Homo sapiens: one gene and its partners. The protein of the gene in region 3 purifies or fractionates together with the protein of the main gene of each other region. This does not show direct contact. Each region holds a gene or a part of one and is shown on either strand. Other genes may lie near its edges.

The links.
Region 1: the proteins of ACVR2B (region 3) and DENND6A purify together in Homo sapiens (affinity purification with mass spectrometry; one large-scale study listed by BioGRID and IntAct). This does not show direct contact.
Region 2: the proteins of ACVR2B (region 3) and TNFRSF10B purify together in Homo sapiens (affinity purification with mass spectrometry; one large-scale study listed by BioGRID and IntAct). This does not show direct contact.
Region 4: the proteins of ACVR2B (region 3) and MARK3 purify together in Homo sapiens (affinity purification with mass spectrometry; one large-scale study listed by BioGRID and IntAct). This does not show direct contact.
Region 5: the proteins of ACVR2B (region 3) and NLRX1 purify together in Homo sapiens (affinity purification with mass spectrometry; one large-scale study listed by BioGRID and IntAct). This does not show direct contact.
Region 6: the proteins of ACVR2B (region 3) and SLC20A1 purify together in Homo sapiens (affinity purification with mass spectrometry; one large-scale study listed by BioGRID and IntAct). This does not show direct contact.
Region 7: the proteins of ACVR2B (region 3) and KIRREL1 purify together in Homo sapiens (affinity purification with mass spectrometry; one large-scale study listed by BioGRID and IntAct). This does not show direct contact.

The regions. Positions count from the first base shown.
Region 1 is NC_000003.12:57,654,827-57,658,878, forward strand, and holds part of DENND6A (protein DENND6A), read right to left. Parts: intron 2,910-4,052; coding exon 2,854-2,909; intron 1,670-2,853; exon of another isoform or gene 1-1,669.
Region 2 is NC_000008.11:23,027,245-23,031,296, reverse strand, and holds part of TNFRSF10B (tumor necrosis factor receptor superfamily member 10B isoform 1 precursor), read left to right. Parts: intron 1-424; coding exon 425-538; intron 539-1,575; coding exon 1,576-1,687; intron 1,688-2,694; coding exon 2,695-2,966; intron 2,967-3,543; coding exon 3,544-3,575; intron 3,576-4,008; coding exon 4,009-4,052. UniProt on the Homo sapiens protein: Receptor for the cytotoxic ligand TNFSF10/TRAIL. The adapter molecule FADD recruits caspase-8 to the activated receptor.
Region 3 is NC_000003.12:38,456,789-38,460,840, reverse strand, and holds part of ACVR2B (activin receptor type-2B precursor), read right to left. Parts: intron 1,411-4,052; exon of another isoform or gene 1,267-1,410; coding exon of another isoform or gene 1,152-1,266; intron 1-1,151. UniProt on the Homo sapiens protein: Transmembrane serine/threonine kinase activin type-2 receptor forming an activin receptor complex with activin type-1 serine/threonine kinase receptors (ACVR1, ACVR1B or ACVR1c).
Region 4 is NC_000014.9:103,489,595-103,493,646, reverse strand, and holds part of MARK3 (MAP/microtubule affinity-regulating kinase 3), read right to left. Parts: intron 1,871-4,052; coding exon 1,613-1,870; intron 1-1,612. UniProt on the Homo sapiens protein: Serine/threonine-protein kinase. Involved in the specific phosphorylation of microtubule-associated proteins for MAP2 and MAP4. Phosphorylates the microtubule-associated protein MAPT/TAU. Phosphorylates CDC25C on 'Ser-216'.
Region 5 is NC_000011.10:119,171,668-119,175,719, forward strand, and holds part of NLRX1 (NLR family member X1 isoform 1 precursor), read left to right. Parts: intron 1-688; coding exon 689-758; intron 759-1,233; coding exon 1,234-1,322; intron 1,323-1,811; coding exon 1,812-2,431; intron 2,432-2,785; coding exon 2,786-3,607; intron 3,608-4,052.
Region 6 is NC_000002.12:112,655,596-112,659,647, forward strand, and holds part of SLC20A1 (sodium-dependent phosphate transporter 1), read left to right. Parts: intron 1-1,526; coding exon 1,527-1,646; intron 1,647-3,229; coding exon 3,230-3,499; intron 3,500-3,608; coding exon 3,609-4,052. UniProt on the Homo sapiens protein: Sodium-phosphate symporter which preferentially transports the monovalent form of phosphate with a stoichiometry of two sodium ions per phosphate ion. May play a role in extracellular matrix and cartilage calcification as well as in vascular calcification.
Region 7 is NC_000001.11:158,083,701-158,087,752, forward strand, and holds part of KIRREL1 (kin of IRRE-like protein 1 isoform 1 precursor), read left to right. Parts: intron 1-721; coding exon 722-879; intron 880-2,895; coding exon 2,896-3,046; intron 3,047-4,052. UniProt on the Homo sapiens protein: Required for proper function of the glomerular filtration barrier. It is involved in the maintenance of a stable podocyte architecture with interdigitating foot processes connected by specialized cell-cell junctions, known as the slit diaphragm.

The DNA of each region.
Region 1 (4,052 bases), about 19 Mb from region 3:
TGTAAATCTATCACCTTCAATATAACTGGATAAATATGTAAACTTTCATTCACACTAATAAACGTGAAATGTAAGCTCTACAGAAACAAAAAGCACAGTCACAAATAAAGCATTAATCTAATCATTAGATATTAAATGCTTGATATAATACTATCACTGTGTGAGATTATTTTTCAAAATTTGGTTTTCTCATCTCTTGGAAAACAAGAATTTTTTTTTTTTTTTGAGATGGAGTCTCATTCTGTTGCCCAGGCTGGAGTGCAGTGGCACGATCTCAGCTCACTGCAACCTCCGTCTCCTGGGTTCAAGCAATTCTCCTGCCTCAGCCTCCTGAGTAGCTGAGATTACAGGCGGCCCGCCACCATGCCCAGCTAGTTTTTGTATTTTTAGTAGAGACGGGGTTTCACCATGTTGGTCAGGCTGGTCTCAAAATCCTGACCTCATGATCCGCCCGCCTCGGCCTCCCAAAGTGCTGGGATTACAGGCGTGAGCCACTGCATCTGGCGGGAAACAAGAATTTAAAAACAACAAACTTACTTGCCCCACTCTTAAAACAATATTATGTAATTCATATCCAGGAGACAAGACATGTGCTAATCAAAGGTGTTAGTGATGGGGGTAATTAACTAAGGGTTGAGCATCCCTAATGTGAAAATCTACATTACAAAATGTTCCCAAATCCAAAAGGTTTTGAGCATTGACATGATGCCACAAGTGGAAAATTCTACTTATGACCTCAAGGTAAGTCAAAGTCAAAATGCAATCAAAATTTAGTTGCATGCACAAAATCATTAAAAATATTTTTTTAAATTACGTTCAGGCTATGTGTATAAGGTGTATATGAAGCATAAGTGACCCTTGTGTTTAAACTTGGGCCCATCCCCAAGATATCTCATTATGTATATGCAAAAATCCCCAAATGCAAAAAAGTCCAAAATCCAAAACACTTCTGATTCTGACCATTTCAGATATGGGATATGCAAGATTACCACAAAAGCTAAGATAATCAGTAACAAACAATAAAGCGTAAGACTCATACCCAGAAGTTCAAAAGAAAAAATGTCCAATAATTGAACTCTATATTAATTTATGCCAATTCTGCAAATTATTCCTTAATGAGTCAAGTATCAAAACGAGAAATGTACACATTCTTCTTAGTATATTTTGCCTGTAATATTTATTCATTTTGGGGACACTCCCTCTTTTCATCCTAATAATGCCATAACATGTACTTTTTAAGAAAATTAATTTGTTTTAAAAGTCACATTTATAATTTATATGCAGTAAAATTTACCCTTACCAAAGATCTAGAATAGTTCCATCACCTCACGAAATGCCCGCAGCCCTTATGTAGTAGATTTCCTCCCCCAGCCCCAGGTAACCACTGATCTGATTTCTGTCCCTATAGTTTTATCTTTTCCAGAACATCATATAAATGGAATCATTCAGTATCTTTAAATTATCTGGAAACTTTCACTTAGCATAATGCTTTTGGAAGTCTTTCACATTGTTGCATGTATCAACTGTTCCTTCTTTTTTTTAACTGCTGAATAGTATTCCATGTGCATTCATGTATTACATTTTGTTTGTCCATTTACCAGTTGATGGATACTTCGGTTGTGTATAGTTTTATACTGTTATGAATAAAGCTACTATATAGACATTTGCATACAGGTCTTCATGTAGACACATTTTCATTTTTATTGAATAAATACCTAGAAATAGGATGACTGTACTGTGCTAGAGCAACATATAAAACTAACCAATCTTTTTTTTTTTTAAACTAACCAATCTTTTGAAGCAGTATTCCATGTAGTTTACAAGTCATAAAAAACAAACAAAAAGGTCAGCCAGGCGCAGTGGCTCACACCTGTAATCCCAGCACTCTGGGAGGGCAAGGCAGGTGGATCACTTGAGGTCAGGAGTTCGAGACCAGCCTGGACAACATGGTGAAACCCCATCTCTACTAAAAATACAAAAATGTAGCCAGACATGGTGGTGTGCACCTGTAGTCCCAGCTACTTGGGTGGCTGAGGCAGGAGAATCGCTTGAACCTGGGAGGTGGAGGCTGCTGTGAGCCAAGACTGCAGCAGTGCACTCCAGCCTAGGCAATAGAGTGAGACTCTGTCTCAAAAATAAAAGAAAAAAGATCCCACCAAAAAAATCCATTTTAAGTCTTTCATGACTTTTTGAGCATTTCGTAACTGCTCATTTATAGCAGTGGTTTTTCAAGCTGGCCTATACATCAGAACTACCTGGGGAACTAGAACTTGGGTACCAATCCAAAGATTTAGCTGCTCTGGGTAAAGGCACAAACATTACTTTTTATTTTTCCTCTATTTCTTTTCTAAGTGCTAACAGTATCTCTTTTTTGTTTTTTCATTTTCCATGTTGACATTTTTCAAACATACAGAAAAGTAAAAACAACAGTGTGAGAAACATCATATACATATCACTCAGATTTAATGATTAATATTTGCCATTTTTCACGTCATCTATTTTTTCTTACTGAAGTATTTTAAAATAGAACACAAACATCATGACATTTCACTCCCAAATAAAATGCATCTCTTTTTTAAAAAAGCATGTTTTCTAACATTATTACAATATAATTCTCACACTAAACCAAACAAAAATATTTTTACATATAATACATATTCTATATTTAAATTTCCCTAATTGTCAAAGCTTATAACATGTACCCAGGGATGAACCATTGATTTATAACATGTAAAACATAACTATTTTCTTCCAATTTTTTCCACATCCTATATAATATTCATTTTTTAAATAAATTAACACCACCACCACAAAGCAAAAGGAAGTCAGTTAATAAAATTTTTTATTCTTTACCTGAAAATATCCACCTCATGAACAGTAGGTAAAATAACAGATATATTTGTGTCCACCTGAGAGATAGAAAAGAAAAATAAAAGAAGGTATCACCAAAATTTATGGAAAATTTTAAAATATATCTATCTCATGATCAATAAGCCATGCTGCCCTGTCTAACTTTTAAGATTCTCTTCCTTTAGGAACAGCCAGAGAGGGAATGGGTCTTACCAATATTCCCTAATATAGCAGAAAATCAAAAATAATGCAGATAACATGGATAAAGAATTAATCCCGGCCAGGCATGACAGCTCATGCCTGTAATCCCAGCACTTTGGTAGGACAAGGCGGGCGGATCACAAGGTCAGGATATCGAGACCATCCTGGCTAACACGGTGAAATCCCATCTCTACTAAAAATACAAAAAATTAGCCAGGCATGGGGGCAGGCGCCTGTAGTCCCAGCTACTCGGGAGGCTGAGGCAGGAGAATGGCGTGAACCCGGGAGGTGAAGCTTGCAGTGAGCCGAGATTGCACCACTGCACTGCAGCCTAGGTGACAGAGCGAGACTCCATCTCAAAAAAAAAAAAAGAATTAATCCCAAGCTCATGCCTGTAATCCTAGCACTTTGGGAATCCAGGAAGGAGGATCACTTGATGCCAGGAGTTCGAGACCAGCCTGGGTAACAGAGTGAAATCCCATCCCTACAAAAAATATTAAAAATTAGCCAGGCATGGTGGCATGCACCGTAGTCCTAGCTACTTAGGAGGCTGAGGTGGGAGAATCACTTCAGCCCAGGAATTGGAGGCTGCATGAACTACGATTGTGCCACCGTACTCCAGCCTGGGAGACAGAGGGAGACCCTGTCCTTGTTTAAGAAAAAATTAATCCAATAGTAAATCAGATTAATTTGCAACTGTATGAAATACTCCCATTAATACTGGTTGATATGTAACAGAAATACTAGTTTTCCTACTGCTATCTGTTTTTTATTCAATTCAAAGAACAAAGTACAACAAAAAAATGTACACCAGTTAAAACATTTCAAATGAAAACTTCAACCCCACCCATGAACAGATGGTGCTTTTGGAAAAATAAAGGGCAATTGTAACTACAGAATCCTTTTAACTGAGTTTTCTAAAATCAGAAGTCTGCTGGTCACTCTCCTAAGAGGTTCTGCCAGAATCAAAGCTTATTGAAAAAAATTCACTTTCCCCTTTT
Region 2 (4,052 bases), on a different chromosome or scaffold from region 3:
AGACTAGCCTGGCCAATACGGTGAAACCCTGTCTCTACTAAAAAAATACAAAAATTAGCCAGGTGTGGTAGTGTGTGCCTGTAATCCCAGCTACTCAGGAGGCTGAGCCAGGAGAATCTCTTGAACCCAGGAGGCGGAGGTTGCAGTGAGCCGAGATCACGCCACTGCACTCCAGCCTGGGTGACAGAGTGAGACTACGTCTCAAAAATAAAAAATAAAATAAATAAATGTGTGGCTTATATTTCTTTTGGCAGTGCTGGTTTAAGGTGTGTAAATGCAGAATTGATGAACTGACCAAGCTAGGTAGAGGAGATTTCCCTCTTTTGGTTCCACACATCCCTGAAAGAGGAGTCCCCCAGCCACCACTGCCAGCTTCTGGGAATCCTGTGGCATTTCATTCACCGGCTTTTCTCTCCCCTCCCAGGACACCATATCTCAGAAGACGGTAGAGATTGCATCTCCTGCAAATATGGACAGGACTATAGCACTCACTGGAATGACCTCCTTTTCTGCTTGCGCTGCACCAGGTGTGATTCAGGTACAGAACATATGGACCCCATGCCTAAAGGTGGAATGCGGGGTGATGACATAAAAGTTGTAGCTAAAATGGGATCAGGAGACCTAGATTCTGGTCCACCTTGGTCTTCATCATACCATGTTCCATGATTTTGTCTTTGAGCTTTTTAATAAATAAAACAGGCCCGGCACAGTGGCTCATGCCTGTAATCTCAACACTTTGGGAGGCATCACTTGAGCCCAGGAGTTTGAAACCATCCTGGGCAACATGAGAAACCCCGTCTCTACAAAAATATAAACATTAGCCGGGCATGGTGGCGCGTGCCTGTATTTCCAGCTACTTAGGAAGCTGAGGCAGAAGGATCTCTTGAGCCCAGGAGGCCGAGGTTGCAGGGAGCCGAGATTGTGCCACTGCATTCCAGCCCAGGCAACAGAGCAAAACCCTGTCTCAATAATTAATTAAAATAATAATAATACAGAAATTATTTGTATAATGTATGCTACATGGTAAGGAAATCTTTTAAACTGTCAGCTGCAAGGGGGTGGGGCCATGAGCCAGGCCAAGTGGACAGGGCTGGATCTCAGCAGTGGCACAGGTCTGCTTTGGGGCCAGGCTCTCTCCCCTGGGCTCTGTGCTCCTGGCAGGTGCTCGGCCTCACTCACCCTTCAGGTTCTCAGGCCTCTCCCTCCTCCCCAGCAGGCTGGGCCTTGGGGAAGTCCCCCAAGGGCTCCTCTCCTTGCAGTCTCTCAGGTGATCCCTTGCACTTCCCTTGCTACTGGCCATGCAATCTAAACGATGCTTGTCCCCTAAACGGTGCTTTCCCCTAATCTAATGTAATAAATAATGAACTGTGGTCCTTTTGTATGACTCAACGAGTGTTAGTGACAGCTGAAGGGTGGGTATCCTGAATGAGCCATGAGTGTGCTGGTGCAGAAACTGGCCCTCAGAACTCCTTGGCAAACTGAGTTGAGCTGAGTAGCAGGGTCTTGGGGTGGGGAGGAAGGGTCAAGGGACACATCAGGAAAACACATTCCCAAAACCTTATGCTCTGTCGTCAGGTGAAGTGGAGCTAAGTCCCTGCACCACGACCAGAAACACAGTGTGTCAGTGCGAAGAAGGCACCTTCCGGGAAGAAGATTCTCCTGAGATGTGCCGGAAGTGCCGCACAGGGTGAGACAGGAGCCGGGGGCTCCCAGTAGCTCCATGGAACCCCAAAAGACCCAAGTCTCCTTGTACCCCTGTCTCTCCCCTGACAGCACCCGCAAGGGGCATCCTTGAGGCTGTGGCTGCCCCTCCTGGTCCCTCTGCGTGTCACCACCCCTGCCCCCTGCAGCAGCCTCTTTCCACCCCTCCCCAGCACGAGTCCCCTTGACCAGGCTGACTTGTTCACTGACCACAGAAGGCCATGACTTGGGGCCCATGATAATTTTAGGGGCCCATGAAATGATTTAATTTCTCTTGAAATAAGAAGAATGAGTAGAATGCAGCCAGGCATATATTCATCTTTATACCAATTCAGCAATAAAATGTATTTTTTAATATTTTTATGCATGCAGGGGCCCATAAAGACAAAAGTGCCCATGGCCCACAAAAGGCATAATAAGGCCATGGGTGGAGCTCCTTCAAGTTCCCATGAGGACCTGAGCCCACCCAGCCGGCCTCACCCCTGGCCCCTGATCCCTCAGTAAGACCTGTCTTTTCCCTATTTGGGTTTTAGGGGCCAAGAGTAATTTGCTCTTCTCTGGCCCCCCTAGTATTTGCTGTGATTGGGGGAAATGGGCAGACAGCTGGGGACAAGAGCTCACTTTTGTGGTTGACTGGAAGACCGGACTCATCTTGTGGCCACACGGGCTTGTGACCTTCCCCTGGAGTGTGATTGCTCCTAACGCAGGCCTCCCCTGCAGCCCAGGGAAGCTCAGTGTGTGCCCAGCACAGAAGGCTCCTGGAACTGCAGCTCTGACCCCAGAGCAGGGAGGCCGAGGGGCTGAAGTGCGCATGCTCAGACCCTTCCCCAGCCTCAAGAAGGGAGCACAGGGGGACCCACTGCTGACACGAGGAGACTGTCCTTCCCCTGACACCTTCTCAGGGACACTGGGGAGGGAGGGTGGCTCCTCTTTCATCCCACCTGGCCAGCTTTCCATCAAGAGTCCCCCCTCTCCCTCTGTGTGTGTACCCAGGTGTCCCAGAGGGATGGTCAAGGTCGGTGATTGTACACCCTGGAGTGACATCGAATGTGTCCACAAAGAATCAGGTACAAAGCACAGTGGGGAAGTCCCAGCTGTGGAGGAGACGGTGACCTCCAGCCCAGGGACTCCTGCCTCTCCCTGTTCTCTCTCAGGCATCATCATAGGAGTCACAGTTGCAGCCGTAGTCTTGATTGTGGCTGTGTTTGTTTGCAAGTCTTTACTGTGGAAGAAAGTCCTTCCTTACCTGAAAGGCATCTGCTCAGGTAGGTGCTGGCTGAGGGCGGGGGCACAGGGCACTCTCTGCCCTGCCCCCTCCCACCCTATTCCCACAGACAGAAACGCCTGCCCCTGCCCCAAGTCTAAGTGCCTCCAGCCTGGCTCTATCCTCCTCCTCGTGGTCACCCCCATCCCCACATCCCGTGCACCCCCCAGGACCCTGGTCTCTTCAGTCCCTCTCCCAGGTCTGGGGGTCCCCATATCTCCCAGCCAAGTCCAGGAGGGCAGGGCCAGTTCCTCCCATCTTCAGGCCCAGCCAGGCAGGGGGCAGTCGGCTCCTCAACTGGGTGACAAGGGTGAGGATGAGAAGTGGTCGTGGGATTTTTTCAGCCTTGGTCAGAGCAGAACCAGAGATTTTCCAAGTGTTTGTTTTTACTCTAGTTCCCCTTCTCATCCCCCTTCCTCAGGGTGTCTCTGAGTTGTAAGGCCCCATTCTGTCCCCAGCCCCAGGGCTCCTTGTCCAGTGTCCCAGCCCCCAGCCCAGCCCTGCGCCCCACTGTCCTCTGGGAGGGGGGTGCTTCATGGGCCCCTCCCTTCCTGCTAAGGAGACTGCTTCTTTTTTAGGTGGTGGTGGGGACCCTGAGCGTGTGGACAGAGTGAGTTGATTTCTCCAGGAGCTGGGGGCTCAGGGGTTCAGGAACTGCTTCCTGGGACAGCAGAACCTGGGTGGGTGGGTCCCCATTGTCCTCATGGCTGCCCTGACTCTCTGAAGTGGCCTGGGTGCTCTGGGCTGACTGTGGGGGACACATGGCCATTTTGAGCACCACATAGGCTGGTGAGCCCTGCTGCAGCCCAGGTGACATCCTCACCCCACAGCCTGCACCCTAGGGATGGGGTGTCTGCCTGAGCACAGCACTGGGGGCCTGGCCCCAGCAGCGGGTCCTGGATGTGCTGAGTCTGGGCTGCCTGCGGTGACCTCACTGAGAGGGGGTGGGGATGTCAGGTGCAGCTGCATACTGAGGACCCTGCAGCGAGCCCTAGGTGTGGACTCCTGAGTCGGCTTTTTGCCTTCCCAATGTCTTTTTCCAGAGCTCACAACGACCTGGGGCTGAGGACAATGTCCTCAATGAGAT
Region 3 (4,052 bases):
AAATAGTCGGCAGAGGAACACATGCAAAGAGCATGAGCTCGCCTCACAAAACACCTCAGCTCCAGCCCAGAAACTGGCCAGGGAGAAGGCCCATTGTCCAGCAGGTCAGACCCATCCAGACAACATTCCCCTGGGAAGAGGGCCTCACATTTGCCCAGTGGGACAGGCTTCCTTTCCACACCCGCTTCCAGAGGTCATGCGTCCATGAATGAAAACACCCAGTTGGAGCTGCCAGTCCCAGAAAGAATCTGAAAAAGGCACATGCATGTGTACAGCAAGCCTAGAATAACCAGGGGAAAGCATGGGGCTGTCCGAAGGCGGGAAGCCATTATTGGTCCTGGGCCGGGAAGAGACATGGCTGACCCTTGAACAATCCCAGCCTGCTTTATCCATTGATTTCCAGTACCTACCACTGCCTTAGTCAGAGACATCACTGAGCAATGTAATAGAGTCAGAAGAAGGCAGCAGCATTTCCACCACCAGAAAACCTGGGCATTCAGTAGCAGTACCCCCAGGACCACAAGGAATAGGCACCTCTAGGGCTGGGATGGACCCGTAAGTCTGGTAGAGAATGAGAGACCAAAAAAGAAAGCCCAGAACAAGGGGGTGGGTGTCTGTTTTGGAACACAGAATTAGTGATAGAACCGGAGGGAAGGAAGAGAAAGAATTCTGAGAAGGAAATAAAGTCCCCTTTGTAAAGACCCCAAAAACAGATGGAACTAGGAAGTCTGAACCTCAGCAAGCACTTCACATACCAGTGATGTGGAGCACTTGGAAACTGGGTCTTTGAAAAATGCTTCCTCCACCCTAAGAGTCCAGTTTGTAATCACTTCCCAGTGCAGCAAACTGTGTCTCACTGAGTTCAAGATGAGACAGACAGAGTCCCACAGAAGCGTTCCCTAGCCAAGCTTGAAGCAGGCCAGGGGAGGAGTAGAAAATAAACATGGGGGCAGCCACAGGGGGCTGCCAGCCTGCCAAGCCCAATAGACAAGCCTCCACAGATACCAACCGCTCCACCAGGGCCTCCAGTGTCGGCTGCCTGTCTAAGGCAGCGCTGCCCACACCTCCCCAGGTCCACAGCAGGAAGCCTGGCCCTGCCCTCAGATTCCCATCTGGCCACCACACCCTGAGGGAGAGACTTGCACCCATACCTTTGGGGAGAGGCTGCCCACCTGCCCTGGTGTCCCCGGCCTGGGGGCTCCAGGCCCACAGCCTCTGCGGCTCCCCGGAGCGCCACATGGCAGGTCCACTCAGGGGAAGGGGCATGCCCACGGCCTGCTACAACCCCAGTGCTCCGCTTGGCAGACAGGGCTAGCCTTAGCTCCTGAGGCCCCCAGGTGAGCAGAGAGGGGCTGCTGGGCAGGCAGAGAGTCCCCAGCAACAGGCACTTCCTGGCATTTCTGCGTGTACGGGAGGAAGAGGCTGAGTGCCAGCCTTAAGGCAACGGTCAGAGGCGAGTGGGCGGGTGCGGGCAGGCAGGCTGCCCAGCCACCCACAGCCTCCGCCTCCCTGAAACCTGAACCACTTCTGGGAAAACTCAAGGACGCCAGGATTCTCCTCGGTGGTAAGCTGTACACCAGAACCACTAATTTTGAACCAAACTCTCACGTGCTGAGCAGATTTCACTAAGCAGGAATCTCCTAGGCTTTGAGGAGAACCTCACCTCCAACCCTGCATCCAGAGTGGGGGGATGGATATGCACTCAAAAGCCGTTACCCCTACTTCTTACAACTGTAGACCTCTTTGAAAGCGTGAGAACATTCTAGATCAGTGGTTCCCAATCTGAGATGATTTTGCTCTCACCTCTGCCAGGGACATTTAGCAAGATCTGGAAACATTTTTGGTTGACATGATTAAAGAGGATCTACTGGAATTTGTGGGTAGAGGCGGGGATACTGCTAAATATCCTACAATGCACAGAACAGCTCAACCCACCACTACCCATACACAACAGAGTATCATCAGGCCCAAAATGTAATAGTGTCAAGGTTGAGAAACCCTGTTCTACAGTGAGGCCCATGCAACCAGGACCCTGCCTCAGGACTATCTAGAGTCTATCTACAGTCACTAGCAAAAATATTATCCAGACCCAGTCCTCAACCCTCCAGATCCCAATCCATGGTGACAGGTCAGTATCCGTGAGTGGATCTAAACTCCTGAACCGATACTCCTTGGTTCTCATTTGCACTACCCTGAGCTCCCAAGCAGAGGGGCTGAATGCATAGGCTGGCACTCAAGAGGACAGCTTTCTGGAAAGAGAGACCAGGGCTAGAATCTGAACATCCGGCAGGATCACAAAAGGCAAAGTAAGTGAGGTACCAAGGTGGAAAAAGCACCCCTCCCCCGCAGAACAAGCTGCCCCTTAAGACTACTACAGTGGATATGTGCAGGGCAGCCAGGACTTCAAGGAGTCTAATCAGGGGGCAGTAGGTTCCCAGTATCTGTACAAAACAGAGTGGGTGCATACAATGTACACACACATGCACACATATACCGATTTACATTTTCCTGGAGGAAGGGTCCACAGCTTTCATCAGATTCTCAGAGGGGTCTATGACATGGAGGACCACTGTATAGAATGTGGGCTCTTCATTGGCTCCTTATAACAGGAGTTCCTTAGGTGAAGTGCCAGCAGAGGTCCAGGTGCTTCTGGAGATTCTTGATGCCCAGAAAGACCCACAGAGTAGTACACAGTAGAGGCCCACCCAAGTGATGGGAGGCCATAGGGTTTAGATCTTATGTTTTTACCCAGCTATAGGGCCTGGAAAGATGGGCAGGTTTCTCACATCATCTGCCTTGAAAGGGCCCCTAAGAGCTAGGGAGGATACCCATTCCTCCCAAAAGGCAGCCCACCCAGACAGGGCAGAGCCTCGAGTGCCCAGCAGATACAAGGACAGGTAGCAGAAAACACTCTTCTCTGGGAGGGGCACCCACGGCCCATGGCTCTGTAGCCCATGTCCTTGGCAGCTACCGCTACACTAGGCCTGAGGGATGAAAGTCACTTCACTTCATGAGCTCACTCCCTCCGCCCTCCCCCAAGGAAGTGGCCAAGAAACTTCTTTGGGTCAGCCTATCAGAGTAATCAGGGCCTGCACTTCCTGATGGGATAGACAGGAGGCAGGTCCCTCTCCAAGAGCTCTGGTCACTTCACTTAGAATACTGTTTACCCCACCCCCATAAGCCCTTTGATCTGAACCCCAAGTACAGAGTACAGAGACAGGTGTCAGGAGTTCTTGTAGGATACAGCATTGAGTGTCCAGGATGTCCACTGAAATGCAAGAGCCAAATGGCTTGTTTCCCAAGGACACTCGGCCAAGCACAGACCACAAAAGACTTGAAGAATTATTAAAGAACCAACTAACCACTGACTGATCTTGTGACAAGCACCATGTGACATTTATTACACCATAAATTCTACCTTCCCTTCTGAGATTCCATTGTCTAATATGGTAGCCACTAACCAAATGTTCTGCAGAGCACTGGAAATGTGGAAAGTTAGAGTTGAGGATGTTCTGTAAGGCACACACTGGATTTTGATGACAGTACAAAAATGGAATGCAAAATGTCTCGTTTTAATACTGATCTCAGGCTGAAATTACTTTGTATATATCAAATTCAGTGAAATATACTTTTTTTTTGAGACGGAGCCTCACTCTGTCACCAGGCTGCAGTGCAGTGACATGATCTCGGCTCACTGCAACCTCTACCTCCCGGGTTCATGCCATTCCCCTGCCTCAGCCTCTGGCGCAGCTGGGACTACAGGCGTGTGCCACCACACCCAGCTAATTTTTGTATTTTTAGTAGAGACGCATTTCACCACGTTGGCCAGGATGGTCTCGATCTCTTGACCTCGTGATCCTCCCACCTCAGCCTCCCAAAGTGCTGGGATTACTGGCATGAGCCACTGTGCCAGGCCAGTAAAATATACTATTGAAGTTCATTCCATCTCATGGAAAGAATGTGTCCCCCCAAAATTCATACAATGAAGTTCTGACCCCCAGTGTAATGGTATTTGGAGACGGGACCTTTGGGAGGTAGTGAGGGTTAGATTA
Region 4 (4,052 bases), on a different chromosome or scaffold from region 3:
CGCCTTGGCCTCCCAAAGTGCTGGGATTACAAGCATGAACCACCACGGCTGGCCAGGAAGGAATGGTTTATTCTGGGAGTCACCAGACTCTTCTCAGATTGAACTCACTGTCTCTCTTGCTGGCTGGTCATGAATGGGTGTCCCAAACCTGGCAAAGCTCTTTGGCTGATTCTGTTTTGCCCAGTTTAAAATGAGGTGGCTTAATAAAGGGGCTAAGAAGTGAGTAAGAGGGTAAATAGAAACCTTCTGATGCGTCTGACTTCTAGTTAATGCTAATGGATGTCAGAGATCCTCCCTAATCTAGGCGGAGGTTGAAGTTAGCCAAGATTGCACCACTGCACTCCAGCCTTGGCGACAGTGAGACTCCGTCTCAAAAAAAAAAAAAAAATTAAAAAAAAAAAAAAAAGGAATACTCCCTAATCTATTCCATGTCCTAATAATAAGTAGATCAGACTTTAATGTGACTCACCGAAGTTTCAGATGATCGAATACAAGATTACATTTAGCTTAGTTTAAATAATGGAGATGGAGTGAAATGAAGTAATAGGCTATAGGCCATAGGGAATGCAGAAAAACAGAGGAGGGTACTGATCATTTCAGACTCGGGAAAGACTCCTACTGCTGTCCTGTAAGCTACAGATGACAAATAAGAGGGTCCGTCCTAGGCAAACCTGCAAGATACCACAGACAGACTCATCCACAGCTAGGCTTAATTTCAAAACATTTCTCCAAGGATGTCCTGAAACTGCAGGGGCTCTTGGGTTTCCTGGGCTCCTTCTCGGAAAGGTGCCTTTCACTATTGTTTACGGTTCAAAGTGGTATCCTTTCTTTTTCCTCTTGAAGCAGCCAGTATTTCTGGGCTTTTGTAACAGGTAACAAGGTTACGGAAATGAAGTTAATCTCAAAGGACCCTTGAGAGTTTACTGAGGCCCCAGATGCTAGCCTACTAGACACATGGAACATTTTAAAAAATTTCCAGGACCATCAGCCAAGAATCATGCAGCATTTAATAAAAATAACTTAATAATAGTAACATTATTTTTTGATAATAAACCAGAGATTTTATCTCCAAAACTATACCATTTAAGGACATTACCTTGCTCTCAATATAAATTACTAAGACTGAGAGAGAAACTTTCAAGATTTGGACTCTTAAGAAATTTACTGCTCCTTAACAACAATAAAGTGAGAAAAGAGAAGCTGTCTCTTTCCTCTGGGGCTGGAGATGATTATGAAAGACATGCATGGTCTTTCCTGCTGATTGTTACAGAGTGCCAGCCCCCCACCCCACACCAGAACTCGAGGTCTGCCTGCTCAACAACAACGAACATGCCATGCAGACAGATACGTGAGCAAAAGGAACAATAATTAAAGAACAGTAACAAAAACCTCCTAAATGCTAGTTAACTTTTAGTGTTATGAAGACTCTGAGCTCTACAATTTCTACTTTAAAGGTTTTAAAGTATAAAGTTAGATATATATAAAACCAGAAAACCATGAGCTGAAGGCAGACTGAAAAGCATCCAGGTAGCAGTGGCTTCACACAACAAAAAAGACATCTTTCCTTTTGCTCTATGTGTTCACTCCAAAACAACCAGCACCTAGCACTTACCTCCTTGTGAGTTTTGAAGTTAATTTACTAAAGAGATTAGTGGAGCCTCGGCTTCGAGTCTGGGACAATGGTGTGGCTTCATGGGACAGGCTGGGAGAGGCAGGAGGGCCATTATATGTTGCGGTTCGCCGTTCCCGGGGCTGGCCGTGGAAAGTGCTACGACTGGCAGTGCCTCTTGGGAAGCGGATTCGATCTGGGGTGGCTGCACTACTGATACTGTGTGTTGAAGCAACTGGAGTTCTCTGATCAGGAATAGTGCTATGAGATCAGAAAGTAAGAAGCTCTCAGAACATGATATACAAAAATTTACAGTCACAATATACCTTTTATACACAGTGGAGAAAATCGGGTATAAAAAATCCAGATCCAAGGGGTATTTTATAGGACTTAGGAGCAAAAGGTAAGTTAAGTGGGAAAGGGTACCAAAAGAACAATACATAATGAGACAAAGCCTCATGGAGTTTAAGGGACCAGTATTATATATATTTTCAAGGACAAGATTAATGCAGGGAAATTCTAGGACAGAGAACAGCTAACTCAAACTTTTCCCCTTTGCTTCCCTCTCAAATTGCTTACATAGAGAACTGTGCCAATACGAAAGAAATAAAGGATATGCTGGCGTAACTGAAGAACAGGCAACTAAAAAGTTTTGGAAGTAAACAAATGATATATGTATAAAATTCCACATGCTGAAAGCAACTTGGGAGGAGCAGGAACTTCTTATACATTTTGTAGTACGCGAAGGCACGAAGACACACAATACACAACCGAGGACATCATGACAAAAGATGTGCTTAACTAAAATCACATGGAGGAAGGACGCCTTGTGGACAACTGTAACAAAATCTCAGACTATAAAATCCACAGCACAAAATTAAGAAGCAGTGGGTACACATTAGTTTCACAAAGAATGTGCATTTTTCTTACATAGCCTTGAAGTTATCTCCTTCACTGTCTATTGGAGGTAACATCATCTTGGGGTGCCCAGAGGCTGACATGGACATCGACTTCTGATGTCTCAGCCGACAGGTAGATGTACAAACTGAGGCAGGGCTAGCTGCGTAAGCGAACATTTCTGTCAGGCTGGGAGGGGTTTGGGTTCAGGCAGAGGCAGAAACACAGTATGAAGGAGCAGTGACCACAGAGCAACCTGTGTGTAATGCACACACCTTCCTCCCAAGCCATCTCATTTCTGGTAAAGAATAAAAATCTCCTAAGCTTGTTTTGGAGATTCTGGAGCAACTGCTAACCTATAGTTGCTTTTTTTTTTTTCCAAACAGTAATCATAAAAATCTATTACCTTAAAATAAAATAGCAGATTACATGTTTGAATATCTGTTTCTATGAGAGGGACAATGTCCTCTGAGGGTATGCACAAAATAAAACCTATTCTAAGAGATGCCTCAATTCAAATCTAAGTGGTAAAATGAATATATAATATGAGCATGCTATGCTCTCAACCTGTTCCCAAAACACACTGACATATTTTATTTTTTCTTTATTTATTTTTTTTGTAGAGACAGGGTCTCGCTATATTATCCAGGCTGGTCTTAAATTTGTGGCTTCAAGTGATCCTCCCGCCTTGGCCTTCCAAAGTGTTGGGATTATAAGTGTGAGCCACCACACCCGGCCCGCACTGATGTATTTTAAATGAATTAATAAGATTACAGGTATAGGAACTAGCTGTTATATAACAGTATCCTATGTTGTTTGGTGTTTTTTTGAGACAGGGTTTTGCTGTCACCTAGCTGCAGTGCAGTGGTACGATCATGGCTCAATGCAGCCTCAACTTCCTGGGCTCAGGTGGTTCTCCCACCTCAGCCTCCTAAGTGGCTGGGAATACAGGCGCACTCCACCATGCCTGGCTAATTTTGTATTTTTAGTAGAGAGAGTTTTGTCATGTTGCCCAGGCTGGTCTTGAACTCCTGGGCTCAAACGATACGCCTGCCTTGGCCTCCCAAAGTGTTGGGATTACAGGCATGAGCCACCATGCCCAGCCTTCCAATGTTGTTTTAACAATATAGTCTAGAACCTTCCTAATCAAAGGACATTTACTCCAAGATAAAAAACAGTCAGCAGAGCCCCCTTCTCCAAGATGGGCAAATTCATCAGAGCAAATTAACTGTTAACAGACATGGTAAGATAGAGTGGCTGGAAGTCTGCAGTTTCATCTAACACACACAGTTACCGGACAAAACTACCCCCAGGAGTCTCACTGGGACACATTATTTGGAATTCCAGCTCAGTAATCATGTCCTTGGAATTCAAGGGCAGTTTCTTTCCTTTAAGGATAAGTAGGAATACAGCTCTTCCAGTGTCTTTCTGCAGAAATCCTTTGGAAGGATTAAAACCTGGAAACTGGCAAGTTCTTCCTTTCCCTCACTCCCCATACACAGACTAACGACATCTTATTGGTGTCAACTTCCTAGTAGCTCTTCAG
Region 5 (4,052 bases), on a different chromosome or scaffold from region 3:
CTTGGCCAGGTGCGGTGGCTCATGCCTGTAATCCTAGCACTTTGGAAGGCCGAGGCAGGCGGATCACAAGATCAGGAGTTTGAGACCAGCCTGGCAACATGGTGAAACCCTGTCTCTATTAAAACTACAAAAAAAAAAATTAACCAGGTGTAGTGGTGCACACCTGTAATCCCAGCTAGTTGGGAGGCTGAGGCAGGAGAATCATTTGAACCGGGAGGCAGAAGTTGCAGTGAGCTGAGATCGCACCATTGCACTCCAGCCTGGACAATAGAGTAAGACTCTGTCTCAAAAAAAAAAAAAGAGAGTTGGACTAGATCATCTTCGAGAGTCTCTTGTAGCTACATAAGTCTAGGAACTTGTCTGATTTTACTTTACATACAACAGAGATTTACTGAGTGCCTGCCGTACCGCAGACCTGGTGTTAAGTTCTAAGTAAATAATTGTGAACAAAAACAGACGTAAAGGGGACAAAAAAATTTTAAAACACCCAAATGTGATCCCTCTCATGGAGGAGAGAGGAATGAATGTTAATCGAATAATCACACAATGAAATATAAAATTGCAAAATAACTGCTGCAAAGGGGCAGTACATGCTGCTATGAGAGCAAATACTGGGGGGTTTGATGTAGACATGGGTTCTGTGTATTGCATGGGATCTGCAGATGCTATTTCTTCCTTCTCTCTGTAGATGATCGTATCCCCTTCCTGATCCACTGGAGTTGGCCCCTTCAAGGGGAGCGTCCCTTTGGGCCCCCTAGGTGAGGCCTGGGTGTCATACCTTAGGACTAGTCTGGGCACAACAGAGCAGACTGGGAAGGGTCAGGACTTGGGGCTAGCTTGATCTCTTGGGGACCTTGGGGAGGGGCTTGGTCCTTTGGGGGTGGGAGGACAGTGGCAGCTCCAAGGCCTGAGAGGAAGTTGGCTTAGATCATCTGTGGTAGAAGGCATAGTAGTCAGTGGAGGGAGGACCCTGTGGGAAGTGGGTGGAGCCTCACATGGCCAGCCTGAGTTCCAGGCGGGCAGTCAGCAGTGGGGTCTGGAGGGCTAGGGCTAAGGCCTCAGCACCTGGGAAGGGTGTGAGAGTCAGACAAGCCTCTAAACTTGGGGGTCCAGTGTGGGGCCTTTATCTCAGGAAACCAGAAGTCTAGCAGTGCAGATAGGCTTGGACCCAGAGCCTGTGAAGGGGCTGATCCAAGTTACAAGTCCCAGCTCATCCCCTCTCCTTGTTCCCAGGGCCTTTATACGCCACCACGGAAGCTCGGTAGATAGCGCTCCCCCACCCGGGAGGCATGGACGGCTGTTCCCCAGCGCCTCTGCAACTGGTAAAGGGACTGGCTGGGACCCTGGTCAGGGGGTGTGGTGGGCAGACGGGGCTGGAAGGAGAAGCAGGGTGAGGGAGGCATAGAGGATCCACTGCCATCTTCCATCGGTGGTCCCTCCTCCTCTCTCTCTCTCCCTCCCATCCGTCTATGTATCCCTTCCTGCAATACTCTTGCAATGCACACTTATATGTACAAAGCGCTAGGAGAGCCATACCATCCCTATGCTCAACAAAGTTGGGTCAAGCAGGTTAAGACGGCACATAGGTCACTGTGAAACCAGTTTGTCCAGTGGCTTCCCACTTTCTGACATAGGGGTTCCAGACTTTCTGGACAGTCTATATTTTCTCAGGGAGTCTTGTGTGCCCACCATTGTGGGCCCCAGCATCTATGCCGTGATGTCCCAGCCTGACCTCACCACCGCCCTGATTGGCCCTAAGCTACATCTCCAGGCCCCTTTCCCTGACACATTTCCCTTATCTTCCCACTCAGAAGCTATACAGCGGCACCGCCGGAACCTGGCTGAGTGGTTCAGCCGGCTGCCCAGGGAGGAGCGCCAGTTTGGCCCAACCTTTGCCCTAGACACGGTCCACGTTGACCCTGTGATCCGCGAGAGTACCCCTGATGAGCTACTTCGCCCACCCGCGGAGCTGGCCCTGGAGCATCAGCCACCCCAGGCCGGGCTCCCCCCACTGGCCTTGTCTCAGCTCTTTAACCCGGATGCCTGTGGGCGCCGGGTGCAGACAGTGGTGCTGTATGGGACAGTGGGCACAGGCAAGAGCACGCTGGTGCGCAAGATGGTTCTGGACTGGTGTTATGGGCGGCTGCCGGCCTTCGAGCTGCTCATCCCCTTCTCCTGTGAGGACCTGTCATCCCTGGGCCCTGCCCCAGCCTCCCTGTGCCAACTTGTGGCCCAGCGCTACACGCCCCTGAAGGAGGTTCTGCCCCTGATGGCTGCTGCTGGGTCCCACCTCCTCTTTGTGCTCCATGGCTTAGAGCATCTCAACCTCGACTTCCGGCTGGCAGGCACGGGACTTTGTAGTGACCCGGAGGAACCGCAGGAACCAGCTGCTATCATCGTCAACCTGCTGCGCAAATACATGCTGCCTCAGGTGGGTGGCCCTTTACCCCAGGTTATCACTGCTGCCCGTTGACTCGCCCCCTAGGTCCTGGGTTACTTTAACTCCTGGTCCCTTCACTTCCCAGTGGTGCGACCCTGAGCAAGTCAGTAACTTCCCCAGCCTTCTGTTCCTTTCTTTTTGAGTTGCTCTGATCAAATGGGGTACTGCATATAATATTAGCACAGCGGCCTGGATCACAGCAGGTGTTCAGTAATTGCTAGTTATAACTGTTATCCTCATCAATGTCTTCATCCTTGGACACTCCGTCTTCAGGGGTCCCCTGGGAATAGAAGCAGTCAACAGGACACTAAGGTCTTTCTTAACTCTCAACCATGCTCTTCCCAGGCCAGCATTCTGGTGACCACTCGGCCCTCTGCCATTGGCCGTATCCCCAGCAAGTACGTGGGCCGCTATGGTGAGATCTGCGGTTTCTCTGATACCAACCTGCAGAAGCTCTACTTCCAGCTCCGCCTCAACCAGCCGTACTGCGGGTATGCCGTTGGCGGTTCAGGTGTCTCTGCCACACCAGCTCAGCGTGACCACCTGGTGCAGATGCTCTCCCGGAACCTGGAGGGGCACCACCAGATAGCCGCTGCCTGCTTCCTGCCGTCCTATTGCTGGCTCGTTTGTGCCACCTTGCACTTCCTGCATGCCCCCACGCCTGCTGGGCAGACCCTTACAAGCATCTATACCAGCTTCCTGCGCCTCAACTTCAGCGGGGAAACCCTGGACAGCACTGACCCCTCCAATTTGTCCCTGATGGCCTATGCAGCCCGAACCATGGGCAAGTTGGCCTATGAGGGGGTGTCCTCCCGCAAGACCTACTTCTCTGAAGAGGATGTCTGTGGCTGCCTGGAGGCTGGCATCAGGACGGAGGAGGAGTTTCAGCTGCTGCACATCTTCCGTCGGGATGCCCTGAGGTTTTTCCTGGCCCCATGTGTGGAGCCAGGGCGTGCAGGCACCTTCGTGTTCACCGTGCCCGCCATGCAGGAATACCTGGCTGCCCTCTACATTGTGCTGGGTTTGCGCAAGACGACCCTGCAAAAGGTGGGCAAGGAAGTGGCTGAGCTCGTGGGCCGTGTTGGGGAGGACGTCAGCCTGGTACTGGGCATCATGGCCAAGCTGCTGCCTCTGCGGGCTCTGCCTCTGCTCTTCAACCTGATCAAGGTAACATCCCGATCAAGGTAACCCCCCAACCTGCTCCTTCCCTCCCCAGCACCCCAAGCCGCCCACGCCCCCACATGGTTCCCTGTTCACCCCTTGCTCCTCTCCCAGCAGGAAACTGCTGCTTCCTGCAAAGGTATGAATCTTCTCCCTGGATCTGGTTTCAGCTCTGAGCATTTTGGCTTTTAGTGGGATTGCAGAGAGAGAAGCCACAAGGCTGGGGAAGGCTTGGTGGCTGGGGAAGGGAACCTGGGGACGTGGGGACTTTAATAATAATGCTACATGGATTCCTAAAAATGGTTTCCTTTTTGTGTCTTTCCTCCTAGGAGGCAGGCCTATCCTCTGCTTTGCAGGTCCAGAAACTCGATTGTGTCTGCTCCTCCAGAGGTGATTAGGCTCTGAGAGTGATGACTCATCCTAACTAAATCACCAGAGACGGGTTTATAAA
Region 6 (4,052 bases), on a different chromosome or scaffold from region 3:
TATTCCTGGGCTCAGGGTGTTCTCACACTTCAGTCTCCTGAGTAGCTAGAGATCATTATAACATCTGTTAGATTTAAATAGGATTGTATAGTGCTTTACTTCTTTTCGTTTGTTTTTGTGACGGAGTTTCGCTCTTGTCACCCAGGCTGGCTGGAGTGCAGTGGCACGATCTTGGCTCACTGCAACCTCGACCTCCTGGGTTCAAGTGATTCTCCTGCCTCAGCCTCCCAAGTAGCTGGGATTATAGAAGCCCACCACCACATCCAGCTGATTTTTTTAATTTTCAGTGGAGACGGGGTTTCACCATGTTGGCCAGGCTGGTCTTGAACTCGTGACCTCAGGTGCTCCACCTGTCTCAGCCTCCCAAAGTGCTGGGATTACAGGTGTGAGCCACTGTGCCTGGCCAGTGCTTTACTTCTGTCTTTAGTACAGGCTAATGGTTTGGAGCCTACTGGCGTGCATATGACAGTCAGATAATGACTAATATTACTCATTCTTAAACCATGTGAACAGTGTTGCTAGGCAAGTCTTTTTTTAAGGTAAGACTTGTAAGTGAAATTACCACTAAACTTTGTGTGTGAGAAAGACAAAACTTTTTTTTTTTTTTTTTTTTTTTTTGAGACAAAGTCTGACTTTGTCACCCAGGCTGGAGTGCAGTGGCGCAATCTCAGCTCACTGCAACCTCCGCCCTGCCAGGTTCAAGTGATTCTCCCACCTCAGCCTCCCGAGTAGCTGGGACTACAGGCGCCCACCACCATGCCCGGCTAATTTTTTTTTGTATTTTTAGTAGAGATGGGGTTTTGCCATGTTGGGCAGGCTGGTCTCGAACTCCTGACCTCAAGTGATCTGCCTGCCACGGCCTCCCAAAGTGCTGGGATTACAGGCATGAGCCACCGTGCCTGGCTGAAAGACAAAGCTTTTACAACTATTCTTAAATTATCAACTTTTGATAGATAATATCCTTGTTTTCTGTATCTTGCTTTGATACTGCTTTCAAGGAGATAATCTCATTAAAGCATTTTACTAAAGGCCAGTATAGTGAATGTAATCACTTTTACACAGAATTGTGTCAGCATGACAAATGTGACTACTGAGACATCATTCTGTTAACATTAAAATAAGTTTGTAGGTGGTAATGGAATATGTGGCAGTTACGATCATGAGCTAGGAGAGTGGAACACTTGCTGTCTTTTTCATAGCTAGTCATAGGTCCTTAGCGTGTAGTGATCTTTATTATCTTCCAAGGTGAAGAAAGGAAAAGGCTCGTATGTTGAGAAGCATAGGAACTTGAGTCCCGCAGGTGTTCAAGTGGGCTAGGCTGGTGTGGGTTTTCAGATGATCATTGAGTTTTTCTCCCAAATTTGTATAGGCACTAGCACAGTAATCCTGTGCACTTAAATCTGGCAGCAGCTGTCAGGGGTGATGGGCTGGTATGGGGAACCCCTCAGTCCCCAGAGGAGGGTTTACACAATATTGCAGGGGGCTGTTGCCCTGGGGTTTTCAAGATGCACCATTTTATCTCCTAGTGCTGGGCTTTGACAAACTTCCTCTGTGGGGTACCATCCTCATCTCGGTGGGATGTGCAGTTTTCTGTGCCCTTATCGTCTGGTTCTTTGTATGTCCCAGGATGAAGAGAAAAATTGAACGTAAGTAATAACTAAACAGCAGAAAAGTTTAACTACTAATGTTGTGTTTATTTTTTATTTGGCCACCTGTAAAAATCTATTAGAAGAGATTGGCAAAATAAGAGATTTTAAAGGGAAATTTGAGGATATGGGTTTGTTGTCCAAACTGTTTTTAGAAATGGACTTACATGACCTAAGACCTGTTCTTAAAAATGGACTTACATGACCTAAGACCTAGTGATAAAGAGTATTCAACCTATGCTGTAGAGACAATCTGGGGCATTGAATTTTTTTATGTTCCTTGATCAGTTGCCAGTGACATGATAGATAAATAGAGAAATCATAGCCTACATTTACTGAGAAGTAGAAGGATACCTTAATGAAAAATAAGGGGTAGATACAAGATATTTTCGTAGAGGAAATATTTACCCCAACTGCTTCTGTGTATAACTTCAGATTCAGACAAGCAAAGCTAAGTCTAATGTGTACATGTTGTATATAGGCTAGAATACATGTAGACATTGTATTGCAGTATACAATGCAAATACATATACAAACACACATTGTGTGTCTGCTAGAATTGTAGCACAGATTCTAGAAGTAAACATTTTCAAGTGTCAAGGAATCATTTAGGCCATTACCACACACTCATGTAATTAAATACTGAGTAAATTTTGGTTAGTATCGGACTTTTTTTTCCTTAAAATAATCATTTTCTGCCCTTTTCATCGATGTGAAGGCTGGGTTAGCAAGTTGAAGTTTATCGTTTCGAAGCTGAGGGATGCATAGACTGCAGTGGTGTTAGGAAGAACGCTGCGTCACCGCAGCTGAACCGAAGAGCCTCCGAGAGGTTCTGTGCTAGTCTGGCTGTGCCGAGTGCACGGTGGGAACCAGGCTTTCAGGACTCTCTGGCCTCATTTTCCCTCTCTGGGAGGAGTTGAGACAAGTCTTGCTTTATGTTAGTCAGTCTGTAGTTTGACTGAGGTGCCTGGATGGATAGGTCAGCATACTGAGCACTGGCATGAGAGAGGCAGAAGATACTCTGGTCTGCCTGTGGGATTTACAGCCATGATGCACATCTCTTTGTTTTATAGAGGTGGAAATTAAAGTTGTCGTCTTTAGTTCCCTGCATTGAGCTGTGCCACTTTGCTTGAATTGGTGGACTGAAATTTGAGAGAATCCTCTTTTGAAAAGAATAGAATTGGGTACAGTTCAGATTTTTAGTTTCAGCTTATCAGCCCCATGGTTGAGCTACTTTCCCCTACAGAATGAGTCAGCAGGGAGCTAAGAAGGGTTCTTATATCTGTAAAGGGTTGTAAAAATAAAAACAAAACAACAATGTGCTACAGAAGCCCGTAAAACCTAAAATATTTACAGAAAAATTTTGGGACCCCTGACATAGGGTGTTCTGCATTGCTGGTTGTTCCCAAGTGAGAGTTGCTGGCAAATGATAAAGCAGGCAGGAAAAATGTTCCTGAATGTTAATTGAAGTTCACATACATTCTTGTTTTGAGATGAGTTTTTTGGGGGTGGAGGAAAGGAGACGTGGAACAAAGTAGTATGGCCACAACCAAACCAAAAAAGACCCCCCTTTTTTTTCCTAGGAGAAATAAAGTGTAGTCCTTCTGAAAGCCCCTTAATGGAAAAAAAGAATAGCTTGAAAGAAGACCATGAAGAAACAAAGTTGTCTGTTGGTGATATTGAAAACAAGCATCCTGTTTCTGAGGTAGGGCCTGCCACTGTGCCCCTCCAGGCTGTGGTGGAGGAGAGAACAGTCTCATTCAAACTTGGAGATTTGGAGGAAGCTCCAGAGAGAGAGAGGCTTCCCAGCGTGGACTTGAAAGAGGAAACCAGCATAGATAGCACCGTGAATGGTGAGTTGGAATTCCTGGTTTCACTTTTGTTACCTGCAGTGGTGAGGAGGCTTATTGTTTTGGATTTGATGCTTTTTGTATTGAATGTCACCTTGGTGATCTTGACTAGGTGCAGTGCAGTTGCCTAATGGGAACCTTGTCCAGTTCAGTCAAGCCGTCAGCAACCAAATAAACTCCAGTGGCCACTACCAGTATCACACCGTGCATAAGGATTCCGGCCTGTACAAAGAGCTACTCCATAAATTACATCTTGCCAAGGTGGGAGATTGCATGGGAGACTCCGGTGACAAACCCTTAAGGCGCAATAATAGCTATACTTCCTATACCATGGCAATATGTGGCATGCCTCTGGATTCATTCCGTGCCAAAGAAGGTGAACAGAAGGGCGAAGAAATGGAGAAGCTGACATGGCCTAATGCAGACTCCAAGAAGCGAATTCGAATGGACAGTTACACCAGTTACTGCAATGCTGTGTCTGACCTTCACTCAGCATCTGAGATAGACATGAGTGTCAAGGCAGAGATGGGTCTAGGTGACAGAAAAGGAAGTAATG
Region 7 (4,052 bases), on a different chromosome or scaffold from region 3:
AGAAGTGCTATGGAGGTAGCCACCTTTCCGAGCCAGACTCCCAAGACTATGAGCTGTACTCAGGGCCTGAGATAGCCCAGCCCTTTCTTAAGTTTGAGGCTTCCATCTGTAGTGTGCAGCTCTGAGCAACTGTAGGGGTATGGAGCCAGGCACAGTGGTTCACGCCTGTAATCCCAGCACTTTGGGAGGCTGAGGCAGGTGGATCACCTGAGAGGTCAGGAGTTCGAGACCAGTCTGGCCAACATGGTGAAACCCCTACTCTCTACTAAAAATACAAAAATTAGCTGGGAGCAGTGGTGGGCGCCTATAATCCCAGCTACTTGGGAGGCTGGGGCAGGAGAATCGCTTGAACCCAGGAGGTGGAGGTTACAGTGAGCTGAGATGGCACCACTGCACTCCAGCCTGGGCGACAGAGTGACACTCCATCTCAAAAACAAACAAACAAACAAACAATAAACCAGTAGGGGCATGGAGTACCAGAAAATATTATAGGCCAGGAAAGAAAAGCAGACAAGGACTGGGAAAGATGTGTGAGCTGAGGACCTAGAGGAAGCCACCACAAGAGCAATGAAGACAGTGGTTGTAGATTAGGGGGTAGGGTGGTACCGCCTACCTAGAGGCGCACATGCAGGTGGAAGGATGCTTCCAGAGGCAGGAGTTTTGGTCTTCAGGGAAGTGTTAGCCACACCCTGCACTGACTTTGCTCTGCTTTCTCCCACAGTCCCCCCAGAGGACACCAGGATTGACGGAGGCCCTGTGATTCTACTGCAGGCAGGCACCCCCCACAACCTCACATGCCGGGCCTTCAATGCGAAGCCTGCTGCCACCATCATCTGGTTCCGGGACGGGACGCAGCAGGAGGGCGCTGTGGCCAGCACGGTGAGCTCCAGCCAGCTCCCCCAGCTCCTCCTGGGCCTAGCCCAGCTCACCTCTCCTTTCCCACAGGGGTTTCACCACAGACTCAGGAGCACACAGACATGAGAGGGGTCTTAGAGGTCATCTGGTTCAACCCTCTCATTCTACAGTTGGGAAAATTGAAACCCAGAGAAGAGAAATGAATTCCTAGGTTTACTGTGTCATTCAGTAGCTGAACAGAGACTAATAGTAATAATAAGTTGCCATGGATTAAGCACCTACTGTGTGCCAGACACCGTGCATGCTAAACACTTTATGGACAGTCTCTCTTAATCTTCATAGGAGTCCCATAAAGGAGGCATTATTTCCAACTCACAAAGGAGGAAACTTGCGCTCAGAGAGGTTGAGTGACTTGTCCAAGGTCACACAGCTGGCACAGAGCGGGGGTTTGTACCTGGGTCTGACTGTGCTTTCTCTCCACTGATCACTTCTACCTCTTTCCTTCAGCGTCTGGTTGTCAGATTATTCCAGTCATCACAACAAAGAGGCTGGGGAAGCAGAGATCCTTGTATACATTTTATAGATGAGGAAGCCATGAAAGATATCAAGTGACTTGCCCAGGATTACATAGCAAAGCGGACAGTACAGCTGGAATTCAAAGCCAGATTTCCTGGTTGGGGTTACCCTGCCAGTTGTGGGTAAACATATGTGTATTCAGCCCTTTGCTGGTGCTGCAGGAGCACTTCTCAGTGTGGAGACAGAGATGTTCCCATGCTCCTCAGCAAGCAATCCCAGGAATACCTGGCTTCTGGCTTCAGTTCTGCCCTTAACACACTGTGTGACCTTGGATAATTCGCTTCACTTTTTTCTGGCCTTAGTTTCTCATTTGACAAATGATAATTCAGCCTCAGTGGTACTTAACCTTTTCACAACCAAAAACTGTGATTTTTCTTCATCAGGGCTACATGTTTTTAGATATTTTGGCAACCAAACAAGTTGGTTTGTTAATATCCATTTGTCATCTACCCCCATTTTTCATATTCATTAAAGACAATGGAGCTTCAAAGCAGCACAAGGGAGCCAGTGTTATTGCACTGGCCCTCAACTGGGCCTGTCCAGCAAAGCTGCATGCATGGTGGTCAAACAACGGGGTCTTACTTTGATTAATAATATGGCTTCCCTCAGGCAGTTTGCAATATAGAAAACAGATCAAGGGTTCCTGTGACCATATTTAGGGACCCCTGGCTGTCACTGAGCAAGTGTAAGACTTCGAGCCTGTGAGTCCCTTCCCTGCCCTCAAGGAGTTTACAGTTTAGCAGAAGAAACCCAACCCTGAAACACGCACACATGGTGCCTACAAGCAAGGTTGGATGTGTCTAGAGCTGTGAGCAGGACACACTGACTATAAGGGCATAAATTCAGTCTGGGAGAGAGTTCTGAGGGCTGGGCTGGCTGAAGAAGGCTTTCCAGAAGAGAAGGGATTTGCGCTGGACTCACAAAGAGTGAACTCTAATATAAACTGTGGCCTTAATAATAATATATTAGTTTCGGTCCATCAGTTGTAACAGACTTATCACTCTAATGCAAGGTGTTAAGGTGTTAGTAATGGGGGAAAGTGTAAGGTCGGGGAGGAGGGTATATGGAAACTCCCTGTACTTTCTGCTCAATTTTTCTGTAAACTTAAAACTGCTCCAAAAGATAGTCTGTGATGTGGGCATGATGGCACACTCCTGTAGTCGCTGCTACTCAGAAGGCTCAGGCAGGAGGATTGCTTGAGTCCAAGCTTTGGAGGCCAGCCTGGGCAACATAGCAAGACCCTAAAAATATATAACTTTTAATTAAAAGATAATTAGTAGTCTATTGATTAAACACACACACACACACACACACACACAAGGGAAGAGGTTGTGGGAGTGAAGGGGATTGAGCTTTAAGTTAAAGTACCCCTCCAGCCCAAGCCCATCTCTGAGTGAGGTCAACTTAAGAGCAGAGGAGGGGGCTTTTAGCTTAACCATATCTCCCACCCTTGTCATGTTCCAGGAATTGCTGAAGGATGGGAAGAGGGAGACCACCGTGAGCCAACTGCTTATTAACCCCACGGACCTGGACATAGGGCGTGTCTTCACTTGCCGAAGCATGAACGAAGCCATCCCTAGTGGCAAGGAGACTTCCATCGAGCTGGATGTGCACCGTGAGTGGGCTGGGGGGAGCAGTCTGGAGCAGGGGGGTGGAAGAAGGGGTGTGTTTGAGAAGCACACTCTTAGTTTGAGAAACACAAACTAAGAGTCCCCCTATGGTCCCCAGGACAAACGCTTGCCTTCTTCACATCTTTCATTCCCTGGATTGAACCATGGGGACTAAGGGCTGGTAGAGCATTGGCTGTGGAGTCAGGCAGTCCCCAGGTCTAAACCAGCCTGTTATTAGTCAATGGTTTACACTCTCTGGGCCTCGGTTTCCAGTTCTGTATACTGTATATTGCAAAAGATAAAATACTGGCCTACAGTCCCTTATTCAAACTAAAAGTGGTTCGATGGTGCAGCCTGAACCAAGGCTCTTCATAGTCTTTTATTTAATTTAGTCTTAAGTTTCACTGCAGATGTATTCATATGTGTGACTATGGGATGTGGCCCAGATGCTGCTGGGGATCTTACACAGTAAACGCTCTATGCACAACCATTGCCTTTCTAAATGTGAAAAATTCTAAATTCTGAAATGCATCTAGTCCTAAGGGTTTCAAATAAGGGATTGTGGACCTGGACCTGCTTCCTGGGGTTGTGAGCATTAAATGAGATATAGCAGAAGAGCATCTAGCATGGAGTATTCTTACCTGGTAGGTGTGTAATAAATTGTCTCTCCCCAGGGAACCATGGGGGTGTGGGCAGCAACTGGGGATGCCCACACCCCATCCTTTTTAGTGAGCCAAGCAAGCTCACACTGACGCCTAGTGGCCACAGTGGGTCATTAGTCCATTGAGTTATTTGTCCCTTTGGTGCCTTCATTGGTGGTCACCCTAGCAGGCCCCCTAGAGGCTCCATGTGCAAAAGGTGAGGAAGACAGTGTGTTAACTGGAGCCGATACACTGCAACCTCAAATTCCTAGATCCCCGCCAGAGTGGTCAGGTCTGAATGTACGTGTTAGGGAGGGAAAAAGAAACTCAAGGGACAGAAAAGACCCTGACTCCCTGTGCTCTACTTTGC